Linked DNA regions of Homo sapiens. The protein of the gene in region 3 interacts with the protein of the main gene of each other region in a pairwise test. Each region holds a gene or a part of one and is shown on either strand. Other genes may lie near its edges.

What was found.
Region 1: the proteins of SLC10A6 (region 3) and TPRG1 interact in binary tests that used the Homo sapiens proteins (3 or more experiments, as listed by UniProt).
Region 2: the proteins of SLC10A6 (region 3) and TMEM143 interact in binary tests that used the Homo sapiens proteins (3 or more experiments, as listed by UniProt).
Region 4: the proteins of SLC10A6 (region 3) and FAXDC2 interact in binary tests that used the Homo sapiens proteins (3 or more experiments, as listed by UniProt).
Region 5: the proteins of SLC10A6 (region 3) and TMEM120B interact in binary tests that used the Homo sapiens proteins (3 or more experiments, as listed by UniProt).
Region 6: the proteins of SLC10A6 (region 3) and SLC41A1 interact in binary tests that used the Homo sapiens proteins (3 or more experiments, as listed by UniProt).
Region 7: the proteins of SLC10A6 (region 3) and TMEM252 interact in binary tests that used the Homo sapiens proteins (3 or more experiments, as listed by UniProt).

The regions. Positions count from the first base shown.
Region 1 is NC_000003.12:189,314,971-189,318,470, reverse strand, and holds part of TPRG1 (tumor protein p63-regulated gene 1 protein), read right to left. Parts: intron 2,979-3,500; coding exon of another isoform or gene 2,943-2,978; exon of another isoform or gene 2,778-2,942; intron 1-2,777.
Region 2 is NC_000019.10:48,332,941-48,336,440, forward strand, and holds part of TMEM143 (transmembrane protein 143), read right to left. Parts: intron 1,258-3,500; coding exon 1,068-1,257; intron 494-1,067; coding exon 279-493; 3' UTR 1-278.
Region 3 is NC_000004.12:86,839,385-86,842,884, reverse strand, and holds part of SLC10A6 (sodium-dependent organic anion transporter), read left to right. Parts: intron 1-3,500. UniProt on the Homo sapiens protein: Transports sulfoconjugated steroid hormones from the extracellular compartment into the cytosol in a sodium-dependent manner without hydrolysis.
Region 4 is NC_000005.10:154,819,604-154,823,103, forward strand, and holds part of FAXDC2 (fatty acid hydroxylase domain-containing protein 2), read right to left. Parts: intron 2,975-3,500; coding exon 2,869-2,974; intron 1,824-2,868; coding exon 1,657-1,823; intron 870-1,656; coding exon 713-869; 3' UTR 1-712. UniProt on the Homo sapiens protein: Promotes megakaryocyte differentiation by enhancing ERK phosphorylation and up-regulating RUNX1 expression.
Region 5 is NC_000012.12:121,775,252-121,778,751, forward strand, and holds part of TMEM120B (transmembrane protein 120B), read left to right. Parts: intron 1-357; coding exon 358-471; 3' UTR 472-3,500. UniProt on the Homo sapiens protein: Necessary for efficient adipogenesis. Does not show ion channel activity.
Region 6 is NC_000001.11:205,803,199-205,806,698, forward strand, and holds part of SLC41A1 (solute carrier family 41 member 1), read right to left. Parts: intron 1-3,500. UniProt on the Homo sapiens protein: Na(+)/Mg(2+) ion exchanger that acts as a predominant Mg(2+) efflux system at the plasma membrane.
Region 7 is NC_000009.12:68,538,084-68,542,021, forward strand, and holds the start of TMEM252 (transmembrane protein 252), read right to left. Parts: upstream 2,801-3,938; 5' UTR 2,732-2,800; coding exon 2,454-2,731; intron 1-2,453.

The DNA.
Region 1 (3,500 bases), on a different chromosome or scaffold from region 3:
AGTGCCGACTCTCCAACACATCTCTCAAAACCAAGCTTAAATCCTGTATCTTCCACAATGCCTTCCCACAAACTCAAGGGAAAAGTTGACCTTTTTTTCTCTTATGTGTTTCCTATACCTATACCTCCACTCAAATATTTCATCTGGTTTTCTATGAAGTAGAGTCACAAATGTGGCTGTCTGTACAGCTAAACCAAAGTTTCTTCACCTTGGGACTATTGCTATTTTAGGCCAGACAATCTTTTGCTATGGCAGAGAATGTCTTCTGCATGTTAGGATGTTAAGCAGCCTCCCTATCCTCCTCCCACCAGATACCAGACAGATACCTCCCTGTGTATAGAAGGAAGTCTCCTGTAATAGAGGGCACGCCCGTCCAATACCCAGTACTTGAAATCACTTGAGAAGTCACGCTGCTGGACAGACTGTATATATCATCCTTGCATATTTTTTCCTGGAATTATCCTCATAGAGACCCTGTGACTATAAATTCAAGTGTGTAGAGACAAATAAGAAGAGGCAGTAGCTCCTTTTTCCTTGCACAAGAGAGGTTTCTACCCATCGTAATTTCCATCCTCATCCTATCCCATGCCTCAACCCTCCTCTCTGAACACATGCAGATATATGCACACACATACAAGTGCACTTTAAACTTAGCTAAACTGAATTAGTCTTTATCAGAGAACATTTTATATACCTTTGTAAGTATACATTTGATATGACAACCGATAATATCTCACTGGGACACTGGGACATTGTCATATGTCCCCCATGGGAAAAATCACCCTCTCTTGAGAACCACTGAACTAAAGGAAGTATAGGATCAGGCAGAGGGGTCTTAAGTTGGAACTATGATACTCACATAGCTGTGTGACTTTGGGCAAGTTATCCAACCTCTCTGAAATTTATAGTTCCTTTGCCATAAAATAAGAATATTAATAGTATCAAACTTATCAGGTGGTTGTAAAGATTAAGTGAAATAAAGTGTTTGTATACACGCTGTGAATGGAGGGGTGCACATACATGCACTTGTGTGCTCACATATTATATAAAGGATTAGGAAAGCAGAATGAGATGAGCCTGAAATTTGGAGTTATATTGCAAAGGCCATAAAGGAAGCTTGTTGCCAGGAATCAATAAATAATAACTGCTTAATCATCACTGACATCATCCTCATCATCATTACCAAACCATGATCTCTTAAAAATCAAAGTATAATTCATCTCAACAATTCTATTGCAACAAAGTCTGGATTATCCAAAGTCTGGATTATCAGGATGCCTTTTCATAGATCAGTAAATCTTGTCCAGTTGGATTACTGAATGCTTCCTCTGGCTTCATCATAAACTTCTTTCCTTAAGAATCCTCTGTAGACTCAAAATCAAAGTGCTAGAAAGTAAAAGTTGGCACTATTTCATACTCAATGAATTTGGCATTTCATTGGAGTCAGATGGACTTCATTTCCAGTCATTTCTAGGAGCCCCTTCAAAGCCAGGGGAGGGCATGGTTACAGAGAGACAAGCAGGGTGACAAGCAGTGCATTGAAGGAGAGGCAGACAAAAGGCCAAGTCCCCGAGCTGGCTCTTGAGCATTTCAAGCACCTGAACTAAATCTATGTGACAGGAACGCTGTGTCATCTGATATGAATGCCACCAGCCACATACTTTTCCCTAAAAGCTTTTATGCACCCACCTCTGGCTCTCTCTTTTATTTCAGTCCCAAATACAGAGGGTCAGGTTTTAACAACTCCAGTTACACAGGGGCTGTGTGTTGGTTAGGATAAAGTATAGCAGCAGTGTGCGTGGTGGGGACAGGGGGGACATCGTATTATTCTTGACTTTCCACCAATTATTTACCAGCCGAGTGCCTGGTCCACAGGTTTGCTTTAGGTGCTGTCTGCCAACAGTTCATTGCCTGGAGTCTCAGTTTTCCTTATTACAACCATCACTGGCTTCCTGTTTACACTGGGTAAAGAGACCAGGTTTCATGCCTGTAGGCCCACATTCCTCAGTTGAGCTGGTTTTCTGAGCCTGCAGGCTACAGGTTTCAGCCTCCCTGTGTATGGAAGGAAGTCTCCAAGTCTCCTGTCATAGAGGGCACGCCCATCCAATACCCAGTACTTGAAATCACTTGAGAAGTCACACTGCTGGACAGACTGTATATATCATCTTTGCACATTTTTCCTGGAATTATCCTCATAGAGCCCCTGTGACTATAAATTCAAGTGCATAGAGACAAATAAGAAGAGGCAGTAGCTTCTTTTTTCTTGCACAAGAGAGGTTTCTACCCATAGCAATTTCCATCCTCATCCTATCCCATCCCCCAACCCTCCTCTCTGAACATATGCACATATGTGCACACACACACAAGTGCACTTTAAACTTAGCTAAACTGAATTAGTCTTTATCGGAGAACATTTTGTATACCTTTGTAATTCGCAGCTTTTAAGCATGTTTCCTCTAATTAAAATGTCTTTTCCCACCTTCTTTGGTGCTTAAATCACCCATACCTTGAGTTTCATATCAAATGTCATCAGACTTGTTAACTTTTGGACTTATCTGTTCCCACTTTTGGGCTCCCCCTATTTACAATCTTAGTACTTTAAATTATAATTTGTGAAAGTCTTTGCTGCCTCCTCCCCCTACGCCGTAAGTATCTGTAGGGCAAAATCAGTTTTATTCTTCTTGGTAATCCAGAATATTGCTCATCATGTAATGGTCACTGCCAGGTAAGTACTCAATGAATATTTGTTGAATTGTTGTAAAAGGCAAACAAAGGGCTAAGAGTATAAAGTTAAATTTAATTGCTAAAACATTGGTTCATTTACATGATCCCCTTGAAAAGATGGATAGAAATACAAGAAAAGAGTACAAATGGTTGGTCTGTAGATCATGATGGTTGTAGGGCACACATAATGCGTTCACTGCTATTCATCAGTTCTGGGTTCAGTACTCATCCTTCCCAGCAGTAGTCTCTGCATACTGTAGGAACCCAGCAAAGCGATGGTTAAAAAAGAAAAGGTAAGGCTATAAGTTGCAAATACAAAGTGGATGAAATAATTGAGGATAATTGAGCCAGGTTTTGAGATACAATATTATACCATATCACATCAATTAATACAAATGTACACACAGTCTCTCTCTTTCTCACCCCCCCTTACACACACACACACACACACACACACACACACACACAATTCTTTCAGGCTTATACCCATTTCCTTGAATATTAGGAAACTGGGTATAACATAGAACTATTATTATATGATTTCAGTCACTTAATCCCTCTGAATAACTGTCCTCATTTTTTTTTAAAGAGACAAAATCTTGCTCTGTCATCTAGGTTGGAATGCAATGGTATAATCACAGCTCACTGCAGACTTGCACTGCAGACTCGAACTCCTGGGCTTAAGCAGTCCTCCTGCCTTAGCCTTCCAAGTAGCTGGGATTATAGGTAACTGGAATGGGAATACTGGTACATGCCACCATGTCTCATTAATTTAT
Region 2 (3,500 bases), on a different chromosome or scaffold from region 3:
ACACTTGGATGTTTATGGTGAGGGTGGGACTAAGAAATGGAACAGAAGCAGAGCTAAATCGCTTTGATTGGCTGTTCATCGAAGGGGCGGGGAAGACTTAACAACTGCTAGCTGCTTTGATTGGCTGCTTTGCTTAAGCACACAGTGCAGCAAAAATAATCACCTGTCAGTTATTGGAAGTTGGAGTGAAAAGTATAATAACCGTAATTGACAGCCTGTCGTGAAGGAGGCGGGGCTTAGTTCCTAGCCTGCTGACTGGGCAGGGAGGTAGGTTCTACTCAGGAGATGTTACTGCTGGGCGTGGCTTGCGGGGGCTCGGAAGTGATCGGAGCCACTGGGTCTAGTTTGGGGAAACCCGGGGGTGGGTACAATCCCATGCTGGGGGTCAGGGCCTGCAGATGCGCCAGGGCCCGAGTTCCGTTGAAGGTCACCTCACAGCCTGACTTGGCTAGGAGCCAGTTCTCCACCTCCGACCGGAGCCACCTGGAGGTCTCTGCAAGGGGAGAGGCAGGTGTTCTGAGGTCACACTGAGATCGGGGAAGATTCGAGGGAGCAGCAAGGAGGGGCGTAGGGCAAAGAACAGGAAGGGCCTGGGTTTGGGAGAAGCCTAGGAGTGATCTTGAGGCTTGGAGGGGAGCGGAACAAGGCCCAGGAGGGTCGAGAGGGCCAGAAGGCCCAGCTCTGGGGCTTTCGTCTGGGGACCAGTCAGGGGCTCTTGGGCAGGGAAGGTGGGGGCTCCTGTAGGCAAGGGGACCACCTGGAGCCCACACAGGGAGCGCGCAGGATCTCTTGTAGGGAGAGTGTCAGCTCAGGTAGAGGAAAGAATGACAGGAGGGGGCCGTGCCATGGAGCCAAGACTCCCAACCAGGCTGAGGTTAAGAAAGGGCTGTCACATCAGGCACCAAGATCGGAGTCTGGATTCGGAGGTCCTGTCTGCTGAGGGCCGGGGTCTCTTCGCAAACCCGTCAGGTTCACCCGTGGGAACTGGGGGTGGGGACGCATCTCGCTGGGGCGGGGCCTCGCGGGGGTGTGGCCCCTGGGGGCAGGGTCCCAGGGCCACGTCCTACCTTCGGGCGAGCCTTGAGTGCCCCCTGGCCGCCGGGCCAGGAAGCTGTGAGCCAGCAGCGCCTCCTTGGTGTGCTCGTCCTGCGCGCGCAGGGCCAGGGCGCTGAGCAGCTCCGAGTTGTTGGACGTACTGCGATAGTACAGCATGTGCGCCAGCTCCAACGCCTGCGCGCTGCGCCGCTGCCCGAACATCTGCAGGCGGGACAGCGCCCCGTGGGCTCAGTTCGGGGTGCGCCCCCACCCATACACAGCCCCCGGGGTCACCCCCGCTGGCACGGCCCACGCCGCTTACTCCCCTGAGGAGGCGGGGAGGTCCTACCCAGACCTCTTCAGTACGGGTCCCCAGAGCTCAGTCGAGGGATCTATTTGGGGATTTTTGGGGTCTGTCTTTTCTTTTTCTTTCTTTTTCTCTCTTTCTTTCTTTCTTTCTTTCTTTCTTTCTTTCTTTCTTTCTTTCTTTCTTTCTTTCTTTCTTTTTCTTTCTTTCTTTCGTTCTTTCTTTCTTTTCTTTCTTTCTCTTTCTTTCTTTTCTTTTCTTTCTTTCTTTTTCTTCCTTCCTTCCTTTCTTTCTTTTCTTTCCTTTTTTTTTTTTTTTCGACAGGGTCTCGCCCTGTAGCCCAGTCTGGAGTTCAGTGGCTATTCACAGGCAAACTCATAACGCACTGAAGCTTTGAACTCCCGGGCTCAAGCGATCCTCCCGCCTTGGCCTCCTAAGTAGCTGGGACTACAGGTGTGCGCCACCAAGCCCGATATTTTTTGTAGAGACGGGATTCTCCCTGTGTTGACCAGGCTGGTCTCAAACTCCCAGCCTGGAGTGATCCTCGCTCCTCAGCCTCCCATAGTGCTGGGGTTACAGGCGTGACCCAAGGCACCGGCTGGGGATCTGTATTTTTAACACACGTGCCCTCATTCCAGTGGCTCCAAGACCACCAGCCCCATCTGGCCTACAGTTTTCAGCAACCACTGCACTGGTTTGCTCATCTGAGCCATGTATTAATGGATTTACCCAAAGGTTTGCAGATGATAGGAGTTTTAGCTTTGAAAGATTTTGTTACAATACATCCTTATGTTTTAGAGACATAATAAAGTATTTCCAAATAAGTCTAGGTAGGATTTACTTCAAAATCATCCAATAGTAGGACAGTGGAGGTCTTCAGGGGAAATCTGATTAACTATTGCTAATTGTTGATGCTAGGTGCTGGCTAGTGGAGTTTATCATACTATCCTATTTCTGTGTTTGTTTGAACTTTTCTATAATGAAGGAAAAAATGGTTTAAAATATTAAACTGTAGGCCAAGTGCAGTGGCTCAGGCCTGTAATCCCAACGCTGAGAGGCCAAGGTGGGTGGATCACCTGAGCCCAGGAGTTCAAGACCAGCTTGGGCAACATGGCAAAAGCTTCATCTCTACAAAAAATTAAAATTAAAAAACAATAGCAGGCTGGGCTCAGTGGCTCACGCCTGTAATCCCAGCACTTTGGGAGGCCAAGGCAGGTGAATCACCTGAGGTTGGAAGTTCGAGACCAGCCTGACCAACATGGAGAAACCCGTCTCTACTAAAAATACAAAATTAGCCGGGCATGGTGGCTCATGCCTGTAATCCCAGCTACCCGGGAGGCTGAGGCAGGAGAATCGCTTGAACCTGGGAAGCAGAGGTTGCAGTGAGCCGAGATCATGCCATTGCACTCCAGCCTGGGCAACAAGAATGAAACTCTGCCTCAAAAAATAATAATAATAATAATTAGCTGGGTGTGATGGTGAGCACCTGTAGTCCCAGCTACTCATGAGGCTGAAGCAGGAGAATCACCTGAACCCAGGAGGCTGAGGCTACAGTGAGCCATGATCATACCACTGCACTCCAGGCTGGGCAACAGAGTGAGACCCTGTCTCAAAAAAAGAAAAAAGTTAAATTGTAAAGAGAAGAGGAGAGGGGAAGGATGTTGGGGGGAAGAACAGGTCTGGGCCCAGCTGTCTACTGGCTGCCCACTTCCCCACCGTTAGTCTCTTTGCTTGGACCCCTCTTCTCATCCTTGATATTGGTAAGGAGAAATGAGGGCATCAGTGCCCTCTGGGCTCCCACTGAAAAACTGTGCCCAGGCCAGATGCAGTGGCTGACACCTGTAATCCCTGCACTTTGGGAGGATGAGGAGGGCAGATCACTTGAGGTTAGGAGTTCGAGACCAACCTGGGCAACATGGTGAAACCCCATCTCTACTAAAAATACAAAAATTAGACCTGGCACGGTGGTTCATGCCTGTAATTCTAGCACTTTGGGAGGCCGAGACGGGCAGATCACTTGAGGTCAGGAGTTCGAAACCAGCCTGGCCAACATGGTGAAACCTTGTCTCTACTAAAAATACAAAAAAAAAAAATTAGTCAGGTATGGTGACAGGCACCTGTAATCCCAGCTACTTGGGAGGCTGAGGCAGGAGAGTCG
Region 3 (3,500 bases):
AAAAAAAAAAGAAAGAAAGAAAGAAAGAAAGAAAGAAAGAAAGAAAGAAAGAAAGAAAGAAAGAAAGAAAGAAAGAAAGAAAGAAAGAAAGAAAGAAAAGAGGTGTCCATTTATTGATGCAACTCAGGACAGCTCCCACTGTCTTGTCTTTTCTTTTCTTTTCTTTTCTTTTCTTTTTTTTTTTTTTGAGACAGGGTCTTAGACTCTGTCATCAGACTGGAGTGCAGTGGTACAATCATGGCTCACTGAAGTCTTGGCCTTCTGGGGTCAAGTGATCCTCTCACCTCAGCCTTCTGAGCAGCGCAGCTGGGACTATAGGCATGCGCCATCATACCCAGCTAATTTTTTATTTTTTATTACAGAGATGAGGTCTCACTATGTTGCCCAGGCTGGTCTTGAACTCCTGGGCTCAAGCAATCCTCCCACCTAGGGTTTCCAAAGTGCTGGGATTACAGGTGTGGGCCACTTACGCCTGGCCTCCCACTATCTTTGTTTGAGAACTTTTGATATATACAAGAGGTCCATTCTTCCGTAAGGATGTATTTATGTCCTCAGCTGCAGACAAAGGATTCTGACCACTGGTGGTGTTGGAGCCTGTGGAGCTCAGTGGCCAACTTTGACCTTTGAACTTTAAAGAAGTTCTTAGTCCTTCAGTAGAGAACCTGGAAATAGAACTTCAAATTGTTCAGGTCTATCTGACATGTCTTGGTGGAAAACTGAAGGTCCTTTGCATTTAAGGCTTTGGAGACAGAACGGAGACTGAATTCATGAGACTTCATGCAAGCTTCCATGTCTCTATGTACTTTAATTTCCTTATCTATACAATGAAAATAATACTCACACATAGAGTTATTATGTAGATGAAAAGAGAAAATGTATATAAAAGCATGAGACATAACACCTAGCACATAGTGCTCAATAAATACTCATTATTATTGGAAGGCAGCAGACAAGGGTAACATTTATATTGAGGGATGGAAAATCGGGCCTTACGCTCTATTCTAGGGTCAAATCTGTTGGTATGATCTTATAGCTCACTCCGTGTCCATCTGGTTAGCTGGATAATTTTTTATTTCTTTCAGTCGGAAAGCAAGTGTATACTTTCATAGTTTTGAGGGTCAGAGTTCCTGATTTTATGGGATTTTTGAAATTAAAACAATTTATAATAACTTAATCTCCAATTGCAAAATGTTATTGACACTGCATTTTAATGTAATGTGTATATATGTAATTTCCCTGCTTTAAGGGAGGGTTCAAGACTGACCTGTTTGTCTAGACTTGCTGAATATGTCTCATTATTTTCTGTAATAGTTTGGAGATGATGATGCTATTCTTCTCAATGCAAGTGGAATCTTGTTATACTGAAGTTAGATTTTGCCAAAAATTTTCCTATACATGAAAAGTCAAGAGACTTACTTAGCCACATCCTCTGTTTATGCTACATTGGAATTTCATGGCTAAAAATACAAGGCGTGACTTTCCACTGTACTCACAGGCATTCACTGTGTGCTTTTCCACCTTTGCTGGTATTTGTAACAGTTGGCAGAGCACCAGGATAACCTCTTGCCATCCTTGACCAATATCATGATCACCATGGGCTTGAAAATTGTATAAACATGGAAGCAATCACATAGGTAATCAAGGATATAGAATCAGTCGGATATAAATCTCACTTTGCTTCCCATAATCATGAGTCTTACCTTTCTGCTGTTTGAGCCAAAGCCATTCAGTAGAGAAATGTTGTGCTGGTTCTCCAGAAGTTCAAGAGTAAAGTGATATAATATGGAATTCCATTCAGGACTTAGTAATATGGAGAGTCAAGGAATGTAGCACTATCATAGACTAAGAATTTGGAAAAAACTTTCTAAACAGCCTCTTTGTGGATACAGAGGTTTGAGAGCTGTGGCAAACTGCTTTTTTTCTTTTAAATTGCCTACTAGTCAGGAAGAAATCTTTGCTTAAAGTAAGCATTCTTAATAGGATAAAATAATTTTGGGTTTCATATGGAATAAAATATAAGCAAGAACTGCTAAGACAAGTTTGAAAAGGGAAATTTATGTGGAGGTATTTGCCCTACCATATATGAGAACACTGTAATTAGTCTAGTATTTGTTCAGGAAAAAAGAAAGTTATTTATCAATGAGCTAGAAGAGAATTTCCAGAAAATATTTTGTGTACACTTGGGCATTTAATAAATGATAAAGGTGACACTTCAGTATAGTGGAAAATGGTTTATTTTAGTAGATTATATTGACACACTTGCATCTCAATATATTAATAGAAAAAATGGATTAGTCTCATACCTGTTACCATGCAAAATATAAATTTTAAGTCAGTTGAAAATATAAGCATAAAAGTAAAAAGTAGAAGACAATATTTGAATGCCCTCGGATCAGGGTAGGTCTTTAAGATAAGAAACTCAGAAGCCATTAAAAAAACAGCTCTGACTATATAAATGTTAATTATGGCAAGTCATAAGCAAAGTCAAAGATATACACCATGCTTGGAAAAAATACTTGTATTATTCATGGTAATATGAGCCCTAATTTTAAAAGAACTCCTACAAGTTGAGAAGAAGTCTGACAAGCAAGATTGTTTAGAGAGGAGGACACAGAAGAAGCCACTTGACATGAAAGAAAGCACAACCTGATAGAATCCAGAGTGTCGGCTGGGTGCAGTGGCTCACGCCTGTAATCCCAACACTTTGGGAGGCCAAGGTGGGTGGATCACCTGAGGTCCGGAGTTCGAGACCAGCTTGGCCAACATGGTAAAACCCATCTCTACTAAAAATTAAAAAAAAAAAAAAAATTAGCCTGGTGTGGTGGCGGGTACCTGTAATCCCACCTATTCCAGAGGCTGGGGCAGAGAGAATTGCTTGAACCTGGGAGGCGGAGCTTGCAGTGAGTCAAGATCAGGCCACTGCACTCCAGACTGGGTGACAGAGTGAGCTCCAGCTAAAAAAAAAAAATAAAAAAAAAAAATAAGAGTGTAACAAGAGTGAGATCAATTTTTCAATGCTGGCATGACAATTAGAAGGGACTGATCACATCCGGAGTAGGCAAGATTGTGAAATGTAGCAATCTTTTTGGAAAGTAGTCTGAAAGTATATATTAAAACAAAAAACACAGACTTTTACATAGCAATTCCACCTTGGGAATTCACAGAAAGAAAAGAATCATTTCAAGTGAAGTATGTATGAGAGTGTTTATTATAACATTATTTATAATGGCAAAAAACTAAAAGCAACTGACCTATGGTTAATGAAGTGATTGAAGAAATTATGGCATATTTAGATTATGGCATATTTCGCAGTTCTTTAAAAGAATAAGTTTAAATGTATTGGTCTGAGAGGATGTCTGTGATAGATGAAGTGGGAAAAAAAGCAAACAAGTTGCAGAGTAAGGTATATTATAAGGTTCCTTTTTTTATTTTTAGAGACAGGGCCTCCTTCTGTCCCCAAAGCTGGAGTGTTGTGGTGTGAGCATAGCTCACTGCAGCCT
Region 4 (3,500 bases), on a different chromosome or scaffold from region 3:
GTCTGCACCTCGTTGGTTTTAATCCAGGGAGGAGCTCCTGGATTTCTTTTTCTCCCCCACAGAGGGAAACCTTTTGTTTGCGGTGGGCCAGAGTTAAAACGGGGCCTTTACCACTCACTCAGAGTGTTTGGTGTGTGTATGTTTGTGTGTGTGTTGGGTGAAGTGGCGACTGGCATCTGGTATGTCATGAATTGAGACCTATAATGATTTGCCAGGGTGTCTTGGCTCTGGCCTGAGTCGGGTATGTGAAAGCCTTTTGGGGCAGGAAGGGGCAAAGTGATACCTGGCCGTCCCACCCTCTGGTCCCAGAAGGAGCTCTCGCTGGAGCCAGGCAGCCTCCAGTCCCCCTCCTTTCAGCCTTGTCATTCTCTGCATCCTGCCCAGGCCACAAAGGAGTTATCTGGGGCTGAACCCCTCTCCTTCCACAGCAGAGGACCAGGGGTCTCCTCCCTCTGACCAGCCTCCAGTCTGGGGAGCTGTGTTTTCCTTTTTCTTAAGCTAACTCCTGATCCCATTGAGGGACATCAAGGGCAGTAGTTTGAAGAAAGCCTCATCCTTGGCCCTGCTTTTCCGGGAAGCCGACCTTCCCTCTACCCTGGTGGTGCCATCATTAGGGCGTGTGGCCGAAGGAGGCAAATTGTTAGGTGCAATCAGGAAGCCGTGTCTGCATCCCATGGCTGAGGGACAGCCAGGATGACACTTAGGCTGTCTCTCACTCCATCCTCTTTGGGGAGTCTGGGATGCTCTCAGAGAGCGGGGTGAAGCCCAGCAGGAGGACATGTCTCTCGTAGGCCTTGGTCTGCTTGAACATGGTGTCAGTCCCATGGAGGTGGTCCAGCACACCCAGCACCCCATAGCACTGGTTGAACCTAGAAGAGAGAGGACGGCACTGCAGTGCCCATGCTGGAGGCTTCCGTGCAGATCCCATTTCATTTGTGCCAGCCTCACACATTTCTCAGCCCTCCTACCCCACACCTGTCACCACCATCCTGACCATCTGCATCAGAATAAGCTGGGGAGTTGCTACCAATGCATCTCCCGGGGGCCACTCCAAACCTGCAATTTGCCGTATCTGGAGTCCTCCTTTGAAAAGCTTGCTGTGTGATTGATGCCCACAGTCTGAGAATCTCTAGCAGAACTAGGCTTCTTCAGGTATGAGATCACCAGCATCAGAATCCCCTGGAACACTTAACTAAAATGCAGGTTTCCAGGCCCTGCTCCCCCAGATACCTTAGTTCAGCATATTTGGAGTGGAATTCAAGAGCCTATATTTTAAACAAGCATCTCAGGTGATTCTGGTATAGGAGGTTTGTAGACTACACTTGAAAAAGTCTGGGGCTTTCAGAGATACATGACTTCCTTGTGATTGCCTGCAGGAGTTTTATGCATATATGTACTTTTCTAAAGAGAATGTCCAGAGCTTATTCAAAGGGCCCAGAGTCCAAATAAAGGTTTAAAACCCCCAGTTGGAGGAGGACCCAATTTCAGAAGGAAAAGAGTAAGGTCATCCCAGTGTGGTTATTTTCCCAGCCATCAGACCTCTTCCCCAACTAGCACTCACATGTAAACTGAGATACCAGTGCCTGCTATCAGAAGCTTAAGGAGGGAGGGTGATGGTTGTTGCCTAGGGACCCATTGTGGGGAGAAGGTCCTTACTTGAGATGGTGGTAGTCGTGGAATTCAGGCGAAGGCAGGAAGGGAAGGTGGTAGCCACAGTGGGAGATGGTGGTGATGATGAGGGCCAAGGAAAACCACATGGTGATGGAGGACAAGTGGGAGCCCATTACTAATGGGCCCACTATCACCGGTAGCATGTTGGAGACCTGCAAGAGGAGGGATGATTGAAGGCAGGGTCCAGGGAGATGAAGGGACTTAGTTGGGTATACACTTAGTCCCAAGGTGGTACCAGAGGCAAACTTCCTTGACCCAGATCTGGAGAAGGTGAGAGTTTCGGGACTTTGATTTGTTGAAGGCATTCACCTTTGTAACTTGGGACAAATTACGCAGTTTGAGCCTCAACTTTCTTGTTAGCAAAATTAAGATTAAAAAGGTTGTTGGAGGAGCCAGGTGTGGTGATTCATGCCTGTAATCCCAGCAATTTGGGAGACAGAGGTGGGAGGATTGCTTGAGGCCAGGGGTTCCAGCCAGTCTGGGCAAAATAGCAGGATCCCGACTCTACAAAAAAATTTAAAAATTAGCCAGATGTGGCCAGGTGCGATGGCTCACTCCTATAATCCCAACACTTTGGGAGGCCAAGGCGGGTAGATCACGAGGTCAGGAGTTTGAGACCAGCCTGACCAACATGGTGAAAACCTGTCCTACTAAAAATACAAAAATCAGCCAGGCGTGGTGGCACACGCCTGTAATCCCAGCTACTCAGGAGGCTGAGACAGGAGAATGGCTTGAACCCGGGAGGCGGGAGATTGCAGTGAGCCGAGATCATGCCATTGCACTCCAGCCAAGATGACACAGTGAGACTCCAGATTTGGTGGTGCACACGTGTGGTCTCAGCTATTTGGAAGTGCACACGTGTGGTCTCAGCTATTTGGAAGACTGAAGCTAGAGGATCACATGAGCCCAGGGGTTGGAGGCTGCAGTGAGCTATGATCACACCACTGCACTCCAACCTGGGTGACAGAGCAAGACCCTGTCTCAAAAAGAAAAAAAGAAAGTTGTTGGGATGATTAAATGAGACAACTGTGTTAGCACTTAACATAGCCTGGCATATGGAAGGCTGACAATAAATGGTAGCTATTTTTAAATGGGAAGAAAAAGGGCCGGTGTGGTCTAAGTTCTCTGCAGGAGACCTTCAGGAAGGTGGTTGGGGCCATCTGCCCTTTGCTCTGGGGAGCATAGAGCTCTACTCACTGCATGCTCTATAGGGTGGGCATAGAGAGAGATCACGCCAATGGGAGCTGTCCACTCATGGTGTTTCTTGTGGATTTTCTTGTAGAATGTTGGGTGGTGAAGGAGCCTGGGGAAATAGTTAATAGTTAATAACCTGCTGATTCCTCTTTCTCCCTCCCCGACCAGACCATGAGAAACCAAAAATAGGAACTAGGGGTTACATCCATGGAGCAAAGTTAACAACACCAAGACCTGCCTTCAAATTTCAACCCCAGCCCTTATACTGCATAGTTTGGGAGTGGGTTGCTTTGCTTCTCTATGCCAGTTGTATTCGCTGTAAAATGGGATGCTGCCCAGAAAGGACTGAATAAGGAAATGAATGGGAAACTGCCCTGGCTCCCACACAATCAGAGAGGCCTTTTCTCTTTTGGACATTCATTCCTCAGTTGTCCCAAGTTGTCAGTTATGAGACAACTAGTGGTCTCCCTGTTAACTATTTAATGGGACACTTGAGGCCAGGGAGTATTTTACTGGCCTACACTCAATTCAGAAGCCTGTTCCCTTTTATTTTTTTTCTTTGAGACAAGGTCTTGCTCTTTCGCCCAGGCTGGAGTGCAGTGGTGTGATCACAGCTCACTATAGCCTTGACCTCC
Region 5 (3,500 bases), on a different chromosome or scaffold from region 3:
GGGTGGGGTGTGTGCGTGTGTGTGGTGTGCTGTGGGGAGGTTCCTGGGGCGGGCTGGGCTGGCAGGTGTGGGGTGTTGTGGGGGGCCTGCTTGGCGGGAGGCTTCTGGAAGGGCTAGGGGTGGAGCCTCTCCCAATCTGTGGATCCCAAGGAGGTTCGCCCCATCGAGCCCTTCCCAGGCCCTGCCCAAGCCTGAGGCCTCACCCTTCCCCCAGGTCTCCTGAATCTCTGCCTTCGATGGCAAAACCCTGCAGTTTGGGAGTTTGGGGGCAGCTGTGCTGGAGATTCTGGGGTGCTGGGGGCAGGGGTTCAGCAGGGCAGATGCCCCAGCCTCGCCCTCCTCTCTGGACTCCCCCAGGTGTTCGTACTGGCGTTCACCTTCCTCATCCTCTTCCTCGGCAACTTCCTGACCACGCTCAAAGTCGTGCATGCCAAGCTCCAGAAGAACAGAGGCAAGACAAAGCAGCCGTGAGCCTCGGGCTCCTGTGCCCTCGGCCCGGACTTCAGACTGCAGGGGGCTCCCGGGCTCCTTCCCAGCAGCCCTCTCAGGCCCGTGGCATCGCTGGGAGAGGGCCCAGGCCCTGGTCCCCCAGTGGACCCCAGTGGTCTAGAGGAATGTGAGCCCCGCCTGTCCGCACAGTGTCCGCCCACCTATTTATGACATATTTAATGCTGGGTCCCCCATCGTCCCTGGAACCCGAGGCCTCACTCCTGTGCTTGAAGGTGGCTGAGGCCGGGCCAGTCTTCCTGGGGATGGGGCCTGAAGCCTCAGGGAGCCCCTCTGTTCCCACTCCTGTCATTTGAACCCCTCTGGGTGGGGTTTGGATGTGCCTCGCGGGGTTGGATTTATGCTGACCTGCTACTTACCAGGCCCAGGCTGGGGTGGTGTGAACCCTCAGTGTCCTGTGGCGCCCCCACCCCGGGGCCACTCTGCTTCTGCTGTGAGCCCCCTCCTCGCCCACCCCGCCACGTGGTGAGGGTTATTTTAAGTTCTCAGAGACCCACCGCGTCTGCCTCGTGCTCTTCTTGCCCCTGGAGCGCTGGGGGCATCCTGAGTCAGGCTGTGAGAAGATTCGCCACCAGAGGGCGCCCCGGGCCCTGGGTCGTCCAAGGGGACAAGGACGTTCCCGTCTGTGCTTCGGGGTTCCCTGACCCCCCCATCCTGCAGCCCACCTTCCTGCAGTGTCGTGGCAGGTACTTGGAGAGTGGGACCAAGACCCTTGGCCCCTGTGGAGGGGAACCACCTCCCCCCTCCTTCCCAGAGCTTCTGGATGTTGTGGGAGGGAGGTGGGGGTGCCTGGCAGGCTCACCCCCAGGGGCCGCACCCTGAGGCGGGGTCAGAGCCACTGGGCATCGCTTGGGTGAGATTCTGCATTCGACGGGAGGCAGAGAGGCCACCAGGTTTGGCTGAGTGCTCTGCCCCACCATTCATATATGGGCCTCAGCTCCCCCTAACTGTGGCCCTACAAATCCCTAGGCCAGACCTCACAGCAGTGCCCACAGGCATGCCTTGTTTAGCCCTCCTCAAGGAATTTTAAAATTTTTAATTACTTTTTTTTTTTTTGAGACAGGGTCTGTTGCCTAGGCGGGAGTGCAGTGGCATCATAGGTCACTGTAGCCTCCGCCTCCAGGGCTCAAGGGATCCTCCCACCTCAGCCTCTGGAGTAGCTGGGACCACAATCACACACCACCATGCCCTGCTCCTTTTTTTTTTTTTTTTTTGAGATGGGAGTCTCGATCTGTTACCCAGGCTGGAGTGCAGTGACACAATCTCAGCTCACTGCAACCTCTGCCTCCCAGGTTCAAGTGATTCTCCTGCCTCAGCCTCCCGAGTAACTGGGACTACAGGCGCGTGCCACCATGCCTGGCTTTTGTTTTGTTTTGTTTTGTTTTGTATTTTTAGTAGAGACAGGGTTTCACCATGTTTGCCAGGATAGTCTCGATCTCTTGACCTTGTGATCTGCCTGCCTCAGCCTCCCAAAGTGCTGGGATTACAGGTGTGAGCCACCATGCCTGGTCACCCTGCTACTTTTTAATACTTTTTAGTAGAGATGGGGTCTCACTATGTTGCCCAGGCTGGTCTCCAACTCATGGGCTCAACTCATCCTCCTATCTTGGCCTCCCAAAGCGCTGGGATTACAGGTGTGAGCCACTGTGCCTGGCCTGATTACATTTTTAAAATGAGATTTCCCCACCCCTACAGTGAGATTCCACATAAAAATCCAGATTTCTGCTTTCCCTAGAAAAACGGACCTGGCAACATTCCCGTGGCACAGGACGCCTACTCTCCAGTTGCCACAGGCCCTGCCACCCCCCTGCCCTTCATTCTGGTCTCCTTTCTGGTCCTTTTTAGGCACCTGCGTTTGCCCTAGATTAGGAGTCAGCTAGCTGTCTGTAAAGGGCCAGATGGCAACTATTTTGAGCTTTATGGGCCAGGTGGTTTGTGGCAGCTACTCTTCACCTGCAGCCCCAGAGCACAAGGCAATGCAGAAAGGAATGGGTGTTGCTGTGTTCCAATAAAACTTTATTTACAAATCAGGCTGTGGCCAGATGTGGCCCACAGGCTGTAGTTGTTGGACCTCTACCGTAGACCATCATGAGGCCTGGGGTTCTTCGAGAACAAGAACTCCTTGGTTGATTCCCCAGGGTACGGCAGGGCCTTGGGAACCTGGGTGGGTTGGGGAGGGTCTCAGAAGGCTCCTTCCTTTGGCAACCTGACTTCTTGGAAGCTCAGGTTTAGCTGACGCCCCAGCACTGGGCCAGGGGGGCTGAGGCAGGAGATATGGGGAAGGCTAGGAGTTGCCTGAAGCCATTATCCCATCTTAGGCGACACCGACTCCTAGGCGCCCTCCAGAGCCAAGCAGCTTGCGACTTCTGGTAGGCACCGGAATCCCCTGGGATGCTTGTTTTAAAAGTCCTGGGCCGGGCACGGTGGCTCACGCCTGTAATCCCAGCACTTTGGGAGGCTAAGGCGGGTGGATCACGAGGTCAGGAGTTCAAGACCAGCCTGGCCAACATGGTGAAACCCTGTCTCTACTAAAAATACAAAAATTAGCCGGACGTGGTGGTGTGCGCATGTAGTCCCAGCTACTCAGGAGGCTGAGGCAAGAGAATCGCTTGAACCCAGGAGGTGGAGCTTGCAGTGAGCCAAGATCATGCCACTGCACTCTAGCCTGAGTGACAGAATGAGACTCTGTCCCAAAAAAAAAAAAAAAAAAAAATTCCCAGACCCTCGGCCCCAGACCTTCCCAAAGGAGGCTCAGGGATTAGGTATCTGGCTGTTGGTGACACAGGTGGTCTATGAACCAGTTCTGAGAAACTGTCCCGCGTGGACAGGGGGTAGATCCCATCAGTTCTCAAAGGAGGCCAGGATGTCTCGCCTCCTGAACTCCACAGGCTGGTAGAAGCGGGGCTTGAGGGACAGCAGGTTGGGAGCTTGAGGACTAAGTGGGCCAGTCCTGTCCTACCACAGTGGGGGGAACAGTCCACAGAAAACTTGCT
Region 6 (3,500 bases), on a different chromosome or scaffold from region 3:
ACCCTTGTGCACTCTTGGTGGGACTATAAAATGGTGCAGCTGCTATGAAAAACAGTACGGTGGTTCCTCAAAAAATTAAAAATAAAACTACCACATGATCCAGCAATCCCACTTCTGGATATTTATCCAAAAGAATAGAAAGCAAGGTCTTGAAGATATATTAATATGCCCATGTTCATAGTAGCACTATATGTAATAACCAAGAGGTGGAAGCAACCCAAATGTCCATCAAGGAATGAATGGATAAACAAAATATGCAAAGTGTGGTACATATATACCATGGAATATTTCTCAGCCTTAAAAAGGAAGGAAATCCTGTCATATGCCACAACATGGATGAACCTTGAGGACATTACTCTAGTCATAAAAAACACTGTATGATAAAACACTCAGATAAAAAACACTTATCTGAGGTATCCAAAGTAGTCAAATTCTTTTTTTTTTTTTTTTTTTTCTTGAGACACGGTCTCACTCTGTGGCCCAGGCTGGAGTGCAGTGGTGCAATCATGGCTTCGGGCTCCAGCCATCCTCCCATCTCAGTCTCTCGGGTAGTTGGGACTAGAGGCATGCACCACCACACCTGGCTAATTTTTGTATTTTTTGTAGAGACAGGGGTTTCACTATATTGCCCAGGCTGGTCTCGAACTCCTGGGCTCAAAGGATCCTCTCGCCTCGACCTCCCAAAGTGTGGGGACTACAGGTATGAGGCACCGAGCCCAGCCTAAGTAGTCAAATTCATAGAGGCGGAAAGAAGAATGGTGGAAGCAAGGCGCTGGGGGAGCAGGGAAAAGAGTGAGTGTTTAATAGGTACAGAGCTTCAGCTGGGGAAGATGAGGAGTTCTGGAGATCTGTTGTACAATGAGGTGAATATACGTAGTACTATTGAACAGCACACTTAAAAAAGGGTTAAGATGGTAAATTTTATGTTACACATTTTTTACCACAATAACCAAAAAGATAAGCAAGGCTATCAGAGGGGGTGGGGCTAGGGCTTGAGACCAGGAGAGGCTGGGCGCTGGGTGGCCCTATAAGGCAAGAACCTCTCTTTTCCTGTCGGAGCTCTCCCTGTGTGAATGGGGTGGGAGGCCTCACAGGATCCTGGGGAAGGACTCATTTCACTGGGGCTGGAGCATACGCTTGCCTGAGCTTCTGGTCTGGCCAAGACCTGGGACTCTCCTTAGGGAAGCCCCACCGTAGGGACTAACAATGGGGAAGAGACTGCCCCCCATCTCAACAACAGTTACTGGGCTTCCAGGCAGCCAAAGGATGAGCCAGCCCTCTCCAAACACTGAAGGGAAGTGAATCCCTTCCCACCCTAAGACCCCCCAGAGAGAAGGCAGCCCCAGTGAGCCCCATCTGCCCTGGAGCAACTTGGGGACTGTTACTCTTGGACACGGCTGGTACATACCACTGAGGCTCCAGCTCCCTGCAGTCTGGCCTTGCTCTGCTTCGCCTCCTGCTTCCTCCCAAACCAGCTCCAGAGAGGGGAAAAATCCCCCTCTTCTCCCCTCCCTTGCGGGCTTTCAAAGCTCCTCTCAGAGCACAGCCTCAGAGCTCATCTTCACCCCAAAACACCAGCTCCACCCTGCTTCCAAGCTGCCAGCTCCATGAAAATCTGACTTCTACAGGTAGGTGTATGTAATGTACATGTACTCATAGAAAGAAAAAGCCCACAAGAAGACTCCACATGTATGCAAGCAATGTTTTCTGAGCTGTTTGTAATGAATATTGCTTGCTTTTATTATTATTTAAGAAAAATGTATAAAGCTCAGCTAAGTTCCTCTGGTTGCTACCATAAGCACCCCAAATCTCTCTACCTCCCAGCACAATGCACCCTCTCCTTATAGCTACAGGAGGATCTACAAAGTACGGAGTGTTAGGAGCAGTGGGATAAGAGACAGACAGGCAAGGAGAGGGAGCAGTCACAGTAACAGCCCCTATGCAAAAGTCTTCCCGACTCTTACAGAATATAGCCTGGAACCTCAAACGACCTGACCCCAGGCCAGCAAAGCCCCGAGTTGGCACTTGGGTCAGAGAAGCCAATTCCTACACACATACTTTCTTCACCCACAAACCCTCTCAAAGCTGCAGCTCAGGCAGAAAGCCTCTGACACATGGGCATGCATAGGACTCTGGAAAGAGATGCTGGAGGCTGGAGATGTGGAGCCAGCCCAGGAATCAAGGTGGCCTTAAGGTTAGGAGTAGACAGGATGGGCAGGGGCAGACAGTGAGTAGCTCTTCTTCCTCCTTTGGCCAAATTCAGCCCCATCCTGTTCATCCAGGCTAGGAGTATCTGCCCCTGAAGTCACACCCGTCTGCCAAGCAGCCACCCACGCCTTCCTGCTCTGATGGGGATGAAAAAGGGCATGTTCCAGGAAGTGCTGCCCTGCTTGGAGGTGAGGGGAGCATCTAGATTTTAACTACTTCTCAGAAATGCAGCTCCTCATCTCTTTCCTTCTCTAACCTTGGTGTGAGGGGCTCATGGATCCCTGGTATTCTGCAGGTGAGGGAATAGACTGCCTCCCCCATAGCCAAAATGAATCCTGAGGCACAGCAATCACCTTAAGTCTCGATCCTCAGTGGTCCTGCCAGTACCTCTTCCTTGCCCTTCCAATGCGCCTCTTCCATCCTTCACCTACTCCAATCCAAGCTCATACACTGACCCTGACCTGCCTTCAAGGGTTCTGGCCTGAGCCACCTCAGGAGGGTAGCAGCAGGGAAGAAAGTCAGAGCCAGGAATCAAGACATTAAGAAGACTTAAATTCCCAGATACAAGCTTTAGGCTCCAGGCTGGGGAGAATCTGGGCTCCTGTGGGAGAAGCTGGGCTGGAGCTGATCTTTTAGGGTAAGGACTGGGTCAGATGAGATTACAGTAACCCCAGGCTTCACCTGTCTGAGGCTTTTCCAAAAGGCATCCTCTAGGTGTCCAGGAAAGGGCTTTAGGGCAACACCTGGATATACGGTGCAGGACAAAGCAGGAGCAAAGCAAATGGGTCCCTGACAGCAGGCAGGGGACAGAGATGGGAAAAGCAGAAGGGGTGGTCAAGTGAAGCAGATAAGAGTGTCCCGCCCAGGGATGCTGCGGCCACAGGAGCAGGCCAGGCACAGGAGGAATACTTCCTTCCCACTCTACTTCCCCAAGGCCACGCTTGCCATGCACTTTCATCGTTGTAGACTTCTGTATACACAGCAGGATCTACTTTGTTCAAGATCCTTAGCAGGTGAGTAGTGAGTTAAAATAAGGACCTGTCTTAACCTAGCTGGGAATTAAAGTGCAGATGGGCACACTACTTCCTGTCACCCCATCCCTCACAAAGGCTGACAGATAAAGGGAGTGAGACATCCGGAGCAGCCTAGGACCAAACTGGGCAGATGGGCACAAGGCTCCTGCAGTGAGGAGGCTCCCATATCCCAACCCCCTTCAGAAGCCAACACCAGGCCCCAGCCTGCTTCCCTTCCAGATGCTGCAGGAACTTTCAGCCATGGTTGGGAAGTTAGAG
Region 7 (3,938 bases), on a different chromosome or scaffold from region 3:
GACAACTTTACACAGATTTCAGTTGTAGCCCTTTCTATGCCAGTAGGCTAAAGCAGCCATTCATTCGGGGGCTGATGTACTCATTGGTCATCTTGCCTGGCATTTCTAATTGCTAAATCCTCCTGGCTTCTCCATCATGAATGAATTTGGGGGAAGGGGAGAGGGGAGGAAGAGAGACCGGTGAGCTTGGCTGAGTTGTGTATTTATAGAGTGATCCTTCCAGTGCCTACAGGGAGTGTTTATGGTGTGTAACCACAACAGAACAGGGACTGCCATTTGTAGCCACAACTCCATTCCAAATGTTACCAGGCCCAAAGCCAGTAGCTGAAGAAGCTGTCTACTATAAGGCATAAATCTCAGCCTTCGCTCAGAATAGCCAAGGCTGAGTCACGGGGCACATGTGTAAAGGCATTTTACACAGAAAGGTGAGATGTTCCCTGGAGTGATGTGAAAGGTTCCAGGATGACTGCTGCCTGCCCCAAATCCCAGCTACCTCTCCCAACCCCACCCTCCTTCAACTGCCATCCATATTCCCAGTCCCCTGAATTCCATCATCGGAGACCCATTTGCTTTGATATCTCAACCTGGGTATCCATTTTGAGTGCAAATGCTTTGGAGAAATGTGACTTCCCAGGCTGACTTGCCAGCCATTCTGCGTGGGATAAGCATCTTATTACATGCAGCGAGAAGAGGCAGTAAAATGGGGGTGTTACGATGTCCATAATTTACTTTCAAACATTTCAGTATACTGTAATATTATGCAGTGTTAGTCAATTTAAGCTATATCCTAAAGGCAATCAGTTACATTTATCAGAAATTCACACTCTAGAGGTAGTCCTCTAACATTTATACAAAAAGAAATCATCACTCTAGAGGCATCTTCTACAATCACTTCATTTCTCTTAATTTTTAATCAAACCCAGAAACTCTGCTGGTTAGTATAACATTGGAAATAAGTTTTGGTTTTCATAATTATTATCTTATTAATTAGCATAAAGGATGCCAAAAGTGGATGCTCATGGGTAAGATTACTTATATTCAAGATACATGGAGTAGCTAAAATATTTTAGATACTTTCTACTCTTGCACGAAGAGGGCAAAATAATTATAGTCTTGTAGCCTGTATCTTGAGAATGATGCCTAGGGTGTTATCCCTAAATGGTCCTGTGGCTAGCCAAGAATTAGGAGGTTTCTTGTTGCCTGATACTGACTATAAGATTAACTGAATCTTTTTTTTCTTGTGGTAAAATATATATGACATAAAATTTACTGTTTTTAAGTGTATAGCTCAGTGGCACTAAATACACTCATATTGCTCTACAACCATCACCTTAAAACTCTCTACTCATTAAACAATAGGTCCCCAGTCTCTCCTTCCACCAGCCCCTGGGACCACTGTTCTACTTTCTGTGTCTGTGAATTTGACTACGCTAAGTACTCATGTAAGTGGAATTATACAATATTTGCCCTTTGTAACTGACTTGTTTCACTTAGCATAATGTTTTCAACTTCATCCAAGTGGTGGCATGTGCCAGGATTTCCTTCCTTTTTAAGGCTAATATTCCATTGCATGTATATACCACATTTTGTTTATCTACTCACCTGTTGATGGACATTTGGGCTATTATGAATAAATGTTGCTACAAGCATTGGTGTACAAACATCCATTTGAATCCCTGCTTTCAGTTCCTTTGTGTATAAACTCAGAATGTAGAATTGCCAGATCAAACAGTAATTCAATATTTAATGTATAGAGGAGTCTCCACACTGTTTTCCACAGTGGTTGCACCATTTTAACATTCCCACCAGCAATGCACAGCGTTCCAATTTATTGACATCCTCACCAACACTAGCTGTTTGGTTTTGTTTTTTGATGATAACTATCCTAATGTATGAGATGGCGAGAAAGAATGAATCTTGCCTCTAGAATATTATCACCTTCCCCTGAAGGAATGTTTTATGCAAGGTGAGATCACAACACCTAAAAGGACAGTAAACTGGGACTTTTCTGAGCTCACAGAGATTCCAGGACTCATTTTATGCCTGCTTCTTCATTTGTTGTGTGGCAGAATTTGGTCTGGGACTTGCTTTCCTTAGAACCTCATAGCCAGGTTATGGGAAGTAACTAACCATCACCTGCCACTAATTAATGACAGCTGCCATGATATAACAAAAGAGCCTGGGTTTCTAAATTGGCTTAGGTGGGTTTTCACTGGGGGTGGTGGTAGGGTTTCTCTGAGATGAGTTGCCCCTGCGTCATGGTTTTCCCCAAAGATGGCGCCACTCTTCCTAATAACAACCCCAGAGTAATTCCCTGACAATAAAGCTTTGGTTCTAGACAGACAGCCCATGGGACATGTAAGTCGCTCCATAGTAGGATCAGAAATTACTCAGATCTTACACAACTCAGCCCATCTCAGCCCTTCTTGGTCCCTCTGCCTGTCAGCACGTACCTGTCTACTGTGGCCACGGGCAGGGCCCCATGAGCAAGGTGTTGTCGGAGCATGTGCCTCAACACTCCTTTGCTTTCAGTCACCTGGCGATAGTTGCTCCAGAAAATTCCACTCAGAAGGATCACAAACCCCAGAGGCAGAAGCAAATAGGCCGCAATCAGGCTCCCCTGACAGTCGAATATGGAGCCCCAGGAAATGAAGAAGGCCCCCAGGCAGACCATCAGGAAACCCATCAGGAGGGCAAGAGCACAGAGAATGAGGCCAGTTCTGTTCTGCATCCTTGCACCTTAGGAACCCAGCACCCTGACCCTGCTGCTCCTCTGCTTCCCTGCTTGCTCCAAGAGAATGAGCTCATTAGCCAGCTTGCAGCTTTATATGCTCTGGGACCCACTGGCCTTTGGACAACTAAATGAAACAGGCACTTAGAAGCTATTCATTAACCATTGAAAGTAAGTGTAATATCCTTGGAGAATTAGCCAAAAAACATAGCATTGTATACTGCAGGCAGGAGTGGCTTCGTGTAGCTGTTTTGTTCTTCAGAGTTGGGTGGGACACTCAGCTGTTCCCAGTTATTTGAACGTACAGCCCTCCTTTGATTAAAAGGCGCTGGTCTCTTAATCCCCATGGAGGGCAATTCCCCACTAAAAGCTGGAGAAGTTAGCACTCTTTAAAGAACGATCTTCTTTGAGGTTTGGTAAGAAATCCCTTCCTGATTCCTTCTCCCTTTTTCTGTACTAAAAAGGCATTTCTTCAAGGCTGTTAACATGTTTGTCTTGCCTCCCTCAATGAATCCCCACTTATTGCCCCCACACTATGATACTGGCATAATTCCAAGACAGAAGTTCAGAGTGTGAACTTCGTGGTTCCTGCTCTGTTGACAAGATCGAAAGAGCCTGAGTGGGAGGGAAAGGAGAGTGCTGGAGAAAAGGACTATAATAGACAGAGCCTCGGGAATTTGGGGGGATTTTGGGCCTGTAATTCCTGCAATCTTTCCCCCTTTCATAAAGTACATATGAAATAGAATTCGTTTTAGAGGATGCTGCTAAAAATGTTCCCTGTCCTCTCCTCCACACCTCTGCTCTATGTAGCATTGCCTCAAAAAATCTTTCCAGAACCAGCCTTCTGTTTCCTGGCTGGAATTTGTTTTCTTTAGCTTGACTGTCTTTGATTGTGGATAGCTTATTTCAGACGTGCTTTATGCCCTGGCTCTGCCCTTTTTTATTTGATAATGTGGCATGTCTCTGCCAAAAGTCTCCTTCCCATAGGAACCCTGGGTTGCTTTTACTCAGGATAGCTTATCTTCAGTTCCTCTTTGCTGCTGTTCCACTCCACTACTCCATTACCATTATTTTCCATTTACTTTCCCAATGAGAGCAGCAGTTTTTTGTGGCGTGCCCTAATAATCCCTCATATAACCTTTAGTCTCACACTCACCATCTCCTTAGCTCTACCTTCATGTTAGGGCTGGGAGACACGGATATTAGA